2 separate regions of the Homo sapiens genome follow, and region 2 is linked to region 1. A link means that fine-mapping ties the variant in region 1 to the expression of a gene that starts in the linked region. Tissue or cell type: nasal epithelium. Region 1 holds a variant in brackets; the other region holds the start of a gene. All regions are shown on one strand. Distances are between the middles of the regions.

What was found. PIP is the estimated chance that this variant, and not a neighbour inherited with it, causes the effect.
Region 2: USP7 starts here. The variant in region 1 is fine-mapped to the expression of USP7 in nasal epithelium (TOPMed, PIP 0.98).

Annotation. Positions count from the first base shown.
Region 1 is chr16:8,999,246-9,007,131 of GRCh38, reverse strand. No RefSeq gene overlaps it. Among named protein-coding and RNA genes, the nearest start is that of USP7, 39 kb to the right of the region's middle. The variant G/A (reference allele first, on the strand shown) is at 3,464.
Region 2 is chr16:8,961,865-8,967,414 of GRCh38, reverse strand. It overlaps USP7 (ubiquitin specific peptidase 7), which reads left to right and starts at 3,509. Exons shown (of 31, transcript NM_003470.3): 1 at 3,509-4,208. The coding sequence starts at 4,130. USP7-AS1 (USP7 antisense RNA 1) reads right to left here and starts at 4,702. Exons shown (of 2, transcript NR_184341.1): 1 at 4,521-4,702; 2 at 425-662. RefSeq lists enhancers at 36-657, 658-1,281, 1,282-1,905, 4,602-5,138 and silencers at 1,069-1,363, 3,047-3,406.

The sequences.
Region 1 (7,886 bases):
CGCCCAGGTTGGCGTGCAGTAGTGCAACCAAAGCTCACTGCAGCCTCGACATCTTGGGCTCAAGTAATCCTCCCACCTTGGCCTCCCACAGGGATGGGATTACAGGGGTGAGCCACCACGCCCAGCTGGAAAATCCTTTTTCTTGCCTTTTCCAGTTTTTGGTTTGTTTGTTTGTTTGTTTTTCTTTTTGAGACAGAGTCTTGCTCTGTCACCCGGGCCGGAGTGCAGTGGTGCGATCTCAACTCACTGCAGCCTCCACCTCCCGATTCAAGTGATTCTCCTGCCTCAGCCTCCTGAGTAGCTGGGACTACAGGCATGCACCACCACACCCGGCTAATTTTTTGTACTTTTAGTAGAGACGGGATTTCACCATATTGGCCAGGCTGGTCTCAAACCCCTGACCTCGTGATCCACCCGCCTCAGCCTCCCAAAGTGTTGGGATTACAGGCGTGAGGGACTGCACCTGATCCTTTTTTCTTCTTTAAGCCTGCTGCCTCCTCTTGTAAGTACCCTTCTGATTACATTGGGCCCACCTGGATAAGCCATCGTATTCTCCCCATCTCAGATCAACTGATCAGCAACCTTAATTCTATCTACAAACTTAATTTCTCATTGCGGTGTAACATAACATATTCACAGGTCCCAGGGATTAGGACGTGAACACCTTTTGGGTCATTATTCTGCCTACCTGCCACAGGTACAGAGAAAGGCATTTTATTGAACTTACAACATTTCCTCCTAAAACATTTTTAGAGATTAAATTTATCATGAACCATGTTTCAGGAAAAAATGTTCCTTAAACTCTTCTTGTTTTTGTTTTTTTGAGACTGGGTTTCACTCTGTTGCCCAGGCTGGAGGGCATTGGTGCAATCACAGCTCACTGCAGCCTCGATCTCCCAGGCTCAAGTGATCCTCCCACCTCATTCTTCCAAGTTGCTGGGACCATATGCACATGCCACCACACCCGGCTAATTTTTTGTTTTGTAGAGAAAAGGTCACCGTATGTTTTCTAGGTTGGTCTCGAAATTCTGGGCTCAAGAGATCCTCCTGCCTCAGCCTCCGAAAGTGCTGGGATTACAAACGTGAGCCACTGCAGCTGAATCAAACTCTTAAATAAATTCTCTTTTGCTTTTTTTTTTTTTTTGAGACAGTCTCACTCTGTCGCCCAGGCTGGAGTGCAGTGGTGCAATCCAACCTCTGCCTCCTGGGTTTAAACCATTCTCCTGCCTCAGCCTCCCAAGTAGCTGAGACTACGGGCATGAGCAACCACGCCCGGCTAATTTTTATATTTCAGTAGAGCTGGGGTTTCGCCATGTTGGCCAGGCAGGTCTCAAACTCCCAACCTCAGATGATCCACACACCTCGGCCTCCCAAAGTGCTGGGATTACAGGCTTGAGCCACTGTGCCCGGCCTCTTTGGCTTTTTTCATTCACAAACATTGCTTGAGTTATAAGCCCCATGTAGGCAAAAGGAGACACCTAAAACATGGTCCCTGCCTTTGAGAAGTTCGGTGTGGTTCCCCCAGCAGCCACTTTCCCCGCTTTTTGCTCACAAAATCTGTTTGTTGCAGATGAAAATAGGCCTTGGCTGGACGCGGTGGCTCATGCCTGTAATCCCAGAACTTTGGGAGGCCAAGGCAGACAGATCACTTAAAGCCAGGAGTTCGAGACTAGCCTGGGCAACATGGTGAAACACTGTCTCTACTAAAAATACAAAAATTAGCTGGTATGGTAGCTTGCGCCTGTAATCCCAGCTACTTGGGAGGCTGAGGCAGGAGAATCGCTTGAAGCCAGGAGACGGAGGCTGCAGTGAGCCAAGATCACGCCACTGTACTCCAGACTGAGCAACAGAGTGAGACTCTGACTCAAAAAAAAAAAAAAGTTACTAGGTCTGAGGATTGTCAGCCCTATAATACTGACTATTTATTTGATGGCTCCTGCTATGTGAGTTTCTTTGGGAAATCGACATATTTGCCAACTTGAGTCAGGCTTGCTAATGAATTATACGAATTTAAAATCATGGCCGGGTGCAGTGGCTCATGCCTGTAATCCCAGCACTTTGGGAGGCTGAGGCAGGTGGATTGCTTGAGCCCAGGAGTTAAAGACCAGCCTAGCCAACATGGCAAAACTCCGTCTCTACTAAAAATACAAAAATTAGTTGGGCATGGTGGCACATGCCTGTAATTCCAGCTACTTGGGAGGCTGAGCCACAGGAGGTAGAGGTTGCAGTGACCAGAGATGGCACCACTGCACTCCCGCCCAGGTGAGAGTAGGAAATTCTGTCTCAAAATAAATAAATAGACCAGGTGCAGTGTTTCATGCCTGTTATCTCAGCACTTTGGGAGGCCGAGGCAGGTGGATGACCTGAGATCAGGAGTTCAAGACTAGCCTAGCCAACATAACAAAACCCCGTCTCTACTAAAAATACAAAAATTAGCCGGGCGTGGTGGCACATGCCTGTAGTCCCAGCTACTTGGTAGGCTGAGGTGGGAGGATCGCTTGAGTCCAAGGGGCGGAGGTTGCAGTGAGCTGAGATAGTGCCACTGCACTCTGGCGTGGGCAATGAGTGAGATCCTGTCTCAAAAAAATAAAAATAAAAATGAAAAATAATTAATTAAAATAAAACAATGCCAAGCTGGGCGTGCTCACTCCTGTAATTCCAGTGACTCTGGAAGTGGGAGGGGGAGGATCACAAGCCTGAGAGGTCGAGGCTACAAAGAGCTGTGATTACACCACTGTACTCCGGCCTGGACAACAGAGTGAGGCCCTGTCTCATAAGCAAATAACATAACATAACACAATAAAATAATGCCAAGTCTTCAGGAATAAATCCTAGAAATAAAGGGTATTCCACCCTGTCCCTGCTCCCTGGAGCTGTCATGACAAATCACAATGTGCTTAGCACTATGCACAGGACCAAGATCTACATTAGACACAGTGCCTAGGTCCCTCAATATTTTTAGGGGCCCAGGGAATTGTTTAAATTTCTTTTAATATTAGAAGTAAAAAAAAAAATAGGCTGGGTGCAGTGGCTCACGCCTGTATTCCCAGCACTTTCAGAGGCCAAGCTGGGTGGATCACTTTAGCTAAGGAGCTCGAAACCAGCCTGGGCAACATGGTGAAACCCCAGCTCTACAAAAAAAAAAAAAAAAATCAGCCAGGTGTAGTGGCTTGTGCCTGTGGTCTCAGCTGCTTGGGAGGCTAAGGTAAAAGGATTGCTTGAGCCGAGGAGGCAGAGGTTGCAGTGAGCTGAGATGATGCCACTGCTCTCCAGCCTGGGTGATAGACTAAGACTATCTCAAAAATAAATAAATAAGAACTGAAAAATGAATATAATCCAGTCTCCCTTATATTTCTCTTTGTACCAATACAGTCATGAATGACAATATTTTTTCATGAAGGAAGGGTCCATGGAAGTTATAGTGTGGCCCCAACAGTACCTGGCACAGAATAGACCTCAGTAG[G/A]TGTGAGTTGTTTGACTATCCTCATCCTTGTCGCTATTATTGGCAAGAATGAGGCACTCCTCCTTACACTATGGTCACCAGACCAGCCTAGCCAGCTGGGAGGGTAAATAGAACCAAAGTAATTATAAGGCTGGGTGCGGTAGCTCACACCTGTAGTTCCAGCTACTCCAGAGGCTGAGACAAGAACGTTGCTTGAGCCCAGGAGTTACAGGCTGCAGTGAGCTATGATTGCTATGGTTGCAACACTGCACTCCAGCCTGGGACACAGAGCAAGACCCTATCTCTTAAAAAAAAAAAAAAAAAAAAAAAAGTCTGGGCGACCTGGCTCACGCCTGTAATCCTAGCACTTTGGGAGGATCACCTGAGATCAGGACTTCGAGACCAGCCTGGCCAACATGGTGAAACCTTGTCTCTACTACAAATACAAAAATTAGCCAGGCGTGGTGGCCGGTGCCACTAATCCCAGCTACTCAGGAGGCTGAGGTGAGAGAATCGCTTAAACCTGGCAGGCAGAGGTTGTGGTGAGCTGAGATCGAGCCACTGCATTCCACCCTGGGTGATAGAGTGAGACTCCGTCTCAACAACAACAACAAAAAATTAGCACAAAGTAAGCTGGGTGGGTGGCTCATACCTGTAATCCCAGCAGTTTGGGAGGCTGCGGTGGGAGGATCACTTGAGTCCAGGAGTTCAACACCAGCCTGGGTAACATGGCAAGACCCTGTCTCTACAAAAAATTTAAAGATTAGCTGGGAGTCGGCCGGGTGCGGTGGCTCACGCCTGTAATCCCAGCACTTTGGGAGGCTGAGGCGGGCGGATCACGAGGTCAAGAGACAGAGACCACGGTGAAACCCTGTCTCTATTAAAAATACAAAAAAATTAGCGGGGCGTTGTGGTGGGTGCCTGTAGTCCCAGCTACTCGGGAGGCTGAGGCATGGGAATGGCGTGAACCCAGGAGGCGGAGCTTGCAGTGACCTGAGATCGCGACACTGCACTCCAGCCTGGGAGGCAGAGCAAGACTCCGTCTCAAAAAAAAAAAAAAAAAGATTAGCCAGGAGTGGTGGCACACCCATGTGGTCCCAGCTCCTTGGGAGGCTGAGGCAGGAGAATCACTTAAGCCTGGCAGGTCAAGGCTGCTGCGAGCTATATTCAAGCCATTGCACTCCAGACTGGGTGACACAGTGAGACTCTTTCTCAAAAAAAAAAAAGAAAAGAAAACACCATGTAATAATAATATGGATTCACAGTGGTAAGTGCTCATTGCACACTCAGCTCTGTGCTGAAGACATCATTGTCCCTACAAGGTGCATATTATCATCCCCATTCCACAGATGAGGTAATGGAAGCCAGAACAGTGAAGTGACTTGCCTAGGATCACACACCTACCAAGAAGGGGAGGCATGACTTGAATCCAGGTCCCTGGGATGCCACAGCCACATCCTGTATGTGCTAAGAGAGCTGATGCTAATCAGAAGGTCTTGCATGACAGTCTAGAAAATTTGGACTCACTCACACAGAAGTCAGTGCTGGCAGGTTTTTGGAAAGGAGCTTAGTGGTGCTTTGGGAGACGGATTTGGCAGTGGTGCTTGGAGTCTCAGCGGGTTGTCATAATTCCAGGGAATATTCCAAGAGGTGTCTAAGATTGGTAAAGGCAGGCTGGGCACAGTGGCTCGCACCTGTAATCCTAGCACTTTGGGAGGCCGAGGCGGGCAGATCACAAGATCAGGAGGTCGAGGCCAGCCTGGCCAGCATGGTGAAACCCCATCTCTACTAAAAATACAAAAAAATTAGCTGGGCCTGGTGGTGCGTGCCTGTAATCCCAGCTACTCAGGAGGCTAAGGCAGGAGAATCACTTCAACCCAGGAGGCAGAGGTTGCAGTGAGCCGAGATCGTGCCACTGCACTCCAGCCTGGGCAATAGAGTGAGACTCTGTCTCAAAAAAAAAAAAAAAGATTGGTAAAGGGGCGGGTGCAGTGGCTCACACCTATAATCCCAGCACTTGGGAGGCTGAATCGGGTGGATCACTTGAGCCCAGGAGTTCAACACAATGTAGAAAGACCTCATCTCTACCAAAAATTTTTGTTAAATAAAATTAGCCAGGTATGGTGACACTTGCCTGTGGTCCCAGGTACTTAGGAAGCTGAGGTGGAAGGATCATTTGAGCCTGGGAGGTCGAGGCTGCAGTGAGCCATGATCCTACCACTGCACTCCAGCCTGGGTGACAGAGCAAGACTCTGTTTCAAAAAAAAAAGCAAGAAGAAACAGGTGGAAATAATTTTAGCGACATATTTTATTTAACCCAGTATGTGCAAAATATTATCATCTCAACTTAAAAAGTATTAACTAGGCCCAGCAAGGGATTGGGGTGCTTTAACTAACATTTTGGAAGCTCCTTCCGGCCAGGCTCGGTGGCTCATCCCTGTAATCCCACTGCTTTGGGAGGCCAAGGTGGGTAGATCACCTGAGGTCAGGAGTTTTACACCAGACTGGCCAACATGTCAAAACCCCATCTCTACTCAAAATGCAAAAAAAAAAACAAAAAAAATTAGCCAGGCTTGGTGGCTCACACCTGTAGTCCCAGCCACTCGAGAGGCTGAGGCAGGAGAATCACTTGAACCAAGAGGCAGAGGTTGCAGTGAACTGAGATCTTGCCAATGCAGTCCAGCCTGGGTGACACAGGGAGACTCCATCTCCAAAACAAAAAAGCTCCTTCCTTTCTTCCCCTAGTAAGTTAAATGCTGGAGTTCACCATTGTGTGTGATTAGTCGGACTTTCTAGGTTGAAATCTCTGCTCTGTTTCATACTGCTGTGTGACCTTAGACAAATTCCTTAATCTCTCTGTGCCTCAGGAGGCACACCTGTCTATCTATAAGGAGGAATGATAATAATATAACTTACCTTGGGGGTTGTTGCAAGGAGTACATATTAAGCACTTAGACAAGCAGTGAGCATGTGGTTAGCATCCTTTTTGTACACTTGGAAAGGTTTTCCGCTCCTAAATTAATGATATGCAAGAGGCTGGGCACAGTGGTTCAGGCCTGTAATCCCAGCACTTTGGGAGGCTGAGATGGGCGAATCACCTGAGATCAGGAGTTTGAGACAAGCCTGGCCACATGGTAAAACCCCGTCTCTACTAAAAATACAAAAATTAGCTGGGCATGGTGGCGCACGCCTGTAATCTCAGCTACTCAGGAGGCTGAGGCACAAGAATCGCTTGAACCTGGGTGGTGGAGGTTGCAGTGAGCCGAGATCACTCCACTGCACTCCAGCCTGGGTGACAGAGTGAAACTGTGTCTCAAAATAAATCAACAAATAAAAAGGCCAGGCACAGTGTCTCACACCTGTAATCCCAACACTTTGACAGGCCAAAGTGGTGAGATAGTTCGAACCCAAGAATTCAAGACCAGCTTGGGCAACATAGTGAGACCTCATCTCTGAAAAAAATTTTTAAAGAATTGTCTGGACACAGAGGCTCAAGCCTGTAATCCCAGCACTTTGGGAGGCTAAAGCAGGTGGATCACTTGAGTCCGAAAGTTTGAGACCAGCCATGGCCAACTCCCCACCACCCCCCCAGCCCATCTCTACAAAACAATACAAAAATTAGTCAGGCGTGGTGGTGCACACTTTTAGTCCCAGCTACCAGCTAGTAGGGAGGCTGAGTTGGAAGCATTGCTCGAGCTCAGGAGTTCAAGGCTACAGTGAGCCATGATTGTGCCACTGCACTATAGCTTGGGAAAACAGTCCCAGACCCCTGTCTCAAAAAAAAAAAAAAGCCAGGCATGGTGGCTCACACCTGTAATCTCAGCACTTTGAGAGGCCGAGGCAGGCACATCACCTGAGATCAGGAGTTTGAGACCATCCTGGCCAACATGGTGAAACCCTGTCTCTACTAAAAATACAAAAATTAGCTGGGTGTGGTGGCCCATGCCTGTAATCCCAGCTACTGGGGAGGCTGAGGCAGGAGAATTGCTTGAACCCGAGAGGCGAAGGTTCCAATGAGCCAAGATCGAGCCACTGCTCTTCAGCCTATGCTACAGAGTGAGACTCCATCTCAAAATAAATAAATAAATAAATAAATAAATAAATAAATAAATAAGGCCAGGCGCAGGGGCTCACATCTGTAATCCCAGCACGTTGCGAGGCTGAGGCAGGCAGATAACCTGAGATCAGGAGTTTGAAACCAGCATGGCCAACATGGCAAAACCCCGTCTCTACTAAATATACAAAAATTAACCTGGCATGGTGGCAGGTGCCTGTAATCCCAGCTACTCAGGAGGCTGAGGCAGGAGAATCGCTTGAACCTGGGAGGTGGAGGTTGCAGTGAGCCGAGATCATGCCACTGCATTCCAGCCTGGGTGACAGCAAGATTCCATCTCAAAAAAAAAAAAAAAAAATAGCCATGGTGGCACACACCTGTAGTCCCAGC
Region 2 (5,550 bases), 39 kb after region 1:
GTTTTTCATCTCCTTAGTCCCCGGTTTCTGAACCACGGTAGGGGTCATGAATTTTTTTTTTTTTAATTGGCAGTGATCAAAAATGGTGCCCTCAGTCATCTTCCCCTTCAGAGCCCTTCATGTCCTTTGGAGGCATCTTGGCATTCACCCTCTGAGGAAGCAGGCATTACTCAGCGGATTCACTTCTGCAGAGTCCTTCCACACACACCCCTTCTGTGTGCAAATGGACTTTATAGCCAATGCAGGCACAATTCTACCAGGGGAGGAAGAAAACAGGCCAGCCGAGCCTGCTGGAATAATCCAGTGGGGGCCTTTTTAGTGGGCCTCCAAGGGCACTGGTCTTGCTTTTCTCATAGCTGTGGTGCCCTAGAAATGAACTCTCCCTCCACTATCCACTCCTCAGTGAAAGATGTGGACCAGCCAGGAAGAAGCAAAGAAGTGCTGTTTTATTGACTCCAGAAGAGAGGCCTTCCAAGCGAGCAGGCACTGTCATTCCCAGCCTGTATCCCAGAGGCTCTGAGCTCCTAGCAGGCAGTAAACAGTTGCAGGGGTGAAAGCATTCATTCGGCAAATCGGCAAATCTTCACTGAGCATCCACTGTAAGCTTGGTGCTGTACTGAGGATAGAGCTGTAGACAAGACAATTTCTTCCTCAAGGTGCTTCTAGAAAGAGAGAGAGATATTGTGTGTTTTTTGTTTTTTGTTTTTTGTTTTTTTTTGACACAGAGTCTCGTTCTATAGCCCAGGCTGGAGTGCAGTGGTGCAATCTCGGTTCACTGCAACCTCCACCTCCCAGGTTCAAGCGATTCTCATGCTTCAGCCTCCTGAGTAGCTGGGATTACAGGCGCGCTACCATGCCCGGCTAATTTTTGTATTTCTAGTAGAGACGTGGTTTCACCATGTTGGTCATGCTAGTCTCGAACTCCTGACCTCATGATCCGCCCGCCTCAGCCTCCCAAAGTGCTGGGATTACAGGCGTGAATCACCGTGCCCGGCCAGATTGGTTTTGAACTCAGTGATGAGGATAAGGTTGGCCAATGTGAACTGACAGCCATATACATAACTTTCTGCCACCTCTTCCTCTGCCAGAAAGGCACTTTCTTCCCTCCTCCAAGCTTCCAGAATACTAGAGAGAAGGACTCTTTTGCATCTGAGCGCTGTTGATTAGCATTTGTGAGAATCTGTGTGAATAACAATACCTCTTCTTCAGATTCTGGGGGTGACCCAAGGGATTCCTTTGAAGTGACTGGGCTCTCCCCTGCTCACCTCTGTGGTCTGGCAGGAAATATACTGGTGAAAAACCTTCAAGCGTACGAAATGCTGGTGAGGGGGATCCAGTCACGCTTGAATCATATGTTCATTCAACCAGTTGACTAATGATTGATTAATTGATTGGCTGATTGAGATCGGGTTTCCCTATGTTGCCCAGGCTGGTCTCCAACTCCTGGGCTCAAGTGATTGATCCTCCCGCCTCAATCTCCCAAAGTGCTGGCATAAGGGGTGTAAGCCACTGTGCCTGGCCCATTCAACCAATATTTATTTATGTATTTATTTATTTTAGATGGAATCTCCCTCTATTGCCCAGGCTGGAGTGCAGGGGTGTGATTAGCTGACTGCAGCCTCCACCTCCTGGCTTCAAGCAATTCTCCTGCCTCAGCCTCCTGAGTAGCTAGGATTACCAGCGTATGCCACCATGCCCGGCTAAGTTTTTTGTATGTATTTTTAGTAGACATGAGGTTTCACCATGTTGGCCAGGCTAGTCTCGAATTCCTGACCTCAGGTGATCCGCCCACCTCGGCCTCCCAACGTGCTGAGATTACAGGCGTGAGCCACCGTGCCTGGCCCAACCAATTTTTTTTTTTTTTTTGAGATAGAGTTTCGCTCGTTGCCTAGGCTAGAGTGCAATGGCGCGATGTCAGCTCACCGCACCGCACCCTCCACCTCCCGGGTTCAAGTGATTCTCCTGCCTCGGCCTCCTGAGTAGCTGGGATTACAGGCATGCGCCACCACGCCCGGCTAATTTTGTACTTTAAGTAGAGACGGGGTTTCTCCATGTTGGTCAGGCTGGTCTCAAACTCCCGACCTCAAGTGATCCGCCCGCCTTGGCCTCCCAAAGTGCTGGGATTACAGGTGTGAGCCACCGCGCCGACCTGGCCCAACCAATTTTTATTGAGCACTTGCTGTGTATCCCAGGCATTTGTGATACAACAGTGAGCAAAACATTCTTTCGGGGGGAAGGGAGATGAACAGTACATAAATGGGAGAAAAATGCAGGGAAAGCGGGTATAGGGAGATGGAGAGAAGACAGGTACCACAATCTTCTGGCCTTGTTAGGGTGAAATTCTATTCTCCCCTGAGATGTGTAGAAATGTATATCGGTTTGCTCCATTTTTATTGACCCACACTGCCTTGATTAACTGGAAAAGTTGAGACCCTAATCATCAGTCTGTCAATGACTGAATGAGACAGGACAGGAGATATATTCACCAAATGTCTCCTGGAATAGGGAGGCCCCGGGTGAATGATCCCAGACTGGGTTGATAGGAAGGAAGTAAATTAATACCAAATGTGAAGGGTAGTGGGCTTGTTTTATTTTTATATTATTATTTTATTATCACTATTAGTTGAGACAGGGTCTCATTCTGTTGCCCAGGCTGGAGTGCAGTGGCGCCATCTTTGATCACTGCAGCCTCAGTCAACCTCCCAAGCGAACCTCCAGCCTCAGCCTCCCAAGTAGCTGTCACTACAGGCAGGAGGCACAACACCCGGCTAATTAAAAATACATTTCAAAAATATAAAAACAAAACCCAAAACCTTTGTAGAGAGGGTGGTCTCTTACTCTTGGCCTCAAGTGATTCTCCCACCTCGGCCTCCCAAAGTGCTGGGATCACAGGTGTGAGCAGCTGCGCCCCGCCTGGGGTTGCTCTTGAGGAGCCAAACTTTGCCAGATTAGGCTGACAGTGAGAAAATAAATTCTTCCACGGTAGATACTGGGTGAAAAAGTGCACGTCAGCGGGCAAGGGTAAGTAACGACAATAACAGGAACTTCTAGGCGCTGACCCCAAGCTCCCTTCCGGGCCCTATCCCGAGCAGTCCCCGGGCAACCTCCAGCGCTCGCCCCGGCGCGCTAGGCTGGGACCTGAACCCCGGCTGCCGGGTGGCTTCTGGGCCCCTCCTCATTGCCGCTCCTGGGTCTTTCGGGGTGTCCGGCTCCCCAGGATGGGAAGGATTCCGGTTCACCTCCGCAGGGCTAAGTCACCGGGCGGCCCGCCTCGGCCCCCAGGGCCCGGGGGCAGGGAGCGCCGAGGGTCCGCCGCGGGGCTGCGGCGCAGGCGGTGCCGGGGCGCGGCGCTGCGGGGCAGGCGGGCCTCGGCGGCGGCGGCAGGCGGGTCGCTCCCTGCTCCGCCTCCCGTGCTCCGCCCTGCGCTCCCGCTCCGCCCTCCGGCTCGGCGCCCGCCCGCTTGCTCTCCTCGCTCGCTCGCTCGCTCCGCGGCCCCCCATGCGGATGTGACATTTCACGCCGCCGCCATTTTGAGAGCGAGCCGAGCCGAGCTGCCGGGCGCCGCGTCCGCTGCCGGAGCCCCGACGACGACGCCGAGGAGGCGGAGGCCGCGGCTCTCGGAACGCGGCCGGCCCGTCGCCCGCCCGCTCCGCCGCTCCCGCCGGCCCCAGGGCCCGCAGGCCCGCCGCGGCCGGCCAGGCCTCCCGTCCGCCGCGCCCGGCCCGAGGCGGGGCTGACTCCGCGGCCCCCGACCGGCCGCCCTCCGCCCCCGGCCGGCCCGCGGCCCCGCAGCCCCGGCCCCGGCCCCGGCGGCGGGAGGCGGGCCCCGCGGCGGCGGCGGCGGCGGCCGCAGCGAGCGACGAGGCCGCCCGGCCCGGCCCGCCGGCCGCCCGCCCGCCTCGGCGCCGAGATTGGGCGAATCGCGAGCAAGTACGTGCGCGTCTCCCTGCCGCCGCCGCCGCCCGCCGCGGGCCGCCCCGGGGCCGCCGTCGCCGACGACGCGCGGGAGGAGGAGGAGGAGGCCGCCCCGCCGCCGCCGCCGCCGCCGCCGCCCCGGCTCGCCGCCGCCCGCCCGCCGGGCTCGCAGCCCCGGCCCCCGGCCGCAGGCGAGGCCCAGGCCGCGGCCGACATGAACCACCAGCAGCAGCAGCAGCAGCAGAAAGCGGGCGAGCAGCAGTTGAGCGAGCCCGAGGACATGGAGATGGAAGGTGAGGCCCGAGGGCCGGCCGCGGCGGGGCCGGGGGGCGCCTTTCATTGTGGCCGGGGGAGCCGCGGGAGCCACGCGAGGGGCTCGCCATCTTTAACCAGGCCCCGGGCGGCCGCCGGGCCTCGGCCTGGCCTCCCGGCCCCGGCCTGCGAGGCTGCAAAGTCATGCCGGGTCCGCGGGCGAGGGGCGGCCGCCGGGACCCCGGCCCCGTGCATTGTCCCGACCTCGCGTCCGCCGGGCCTCCGCGGCACAAAGCGCCCTGAGTTGTAAATTCGAGCGCTCAGGCAGCGGAGGGACGGAGGTGTTTTCTCACCCAGGTTGGGAGGCGGACTCCGGGGACCGTCCCCGTTCTGGGGCGTCCGGTTGGATCTGGTGTGGCTGGGGAATTCCTGACCTCCCCGGGCGCGGGGCTCGCCCGCACCTGCTCCGGTGCGCTCCCCCGGAGGGCGCGCCGTGGCTCGGAAGCGCTCTTCCAAATCACTTTCTAACAGCACTGCCTAGCGTCGGGCTTACGTTCGAAAATACCTGCAAGGAACGCAGATGTTGTCAGGTTTTGGACTGGCCCAGAGTTCTGACCCGGGCGCTGTTGGTTTCCGAATCCACCTGTTTTTCGGGGAGTTTGTACTTGGCAGTGTGTGGTGCAGCCAGCATCCGGCCAGGTGTGCGCTTGCAACCGTGCGAAAGCCCTGCCGCACATGGCTGCCTGCATCAGAATCAAACCTGACTCGAAAGGTAACTCGGTTTTCTGCCGATGTGGCAGTAATTTTCCAAGGCACTGTAGTTTGAGGTATAGAGTCTTGGTTGTAAAGGTTGGATGTGAAGACGCTGTAAAGAGAAGGGTGTTGGATTTAGGGAGTTGGTCGTTGGAAGGCACTTTTTCTCACGACCCATTTCACTGAAACAAAGCAAAGTCCAAATGGTCTTTAAAAAGTTTTCTTACCTACGTGACGAGTTCAGGCTGTCGGGAGTCAAATGGAGGCCACCTGAATGAAAACGGCGTGGAATGCTTTAGTTTTGCTTTTAGCAAGGGATCTTGGGTTGCCTCAATGAATGAAGCTCCAGGGGAGCTCAGGAAAAGCAGTATTTGTCCTGTGCGGTGGCTCCAAGTGTGGGGCGCTGCACACCGGTTGGTGGGAACACTTAAGCGTGACTGGTGTTCACCTCTGAATAGAATAACTTACTTCCAGTAATTGGATAGTCACTGAAAAAATGGCTGGCCAGGTTGCAAATGACAAAGTGGCTGGGATTCTGCAGTAGGCACTCCCCAGTGGTATTTATCAATGGCAGTAATGGGGGACAGAAGAGCGGAGTCCACGCCAAGGACTGGGTTATCTGTTTCACTT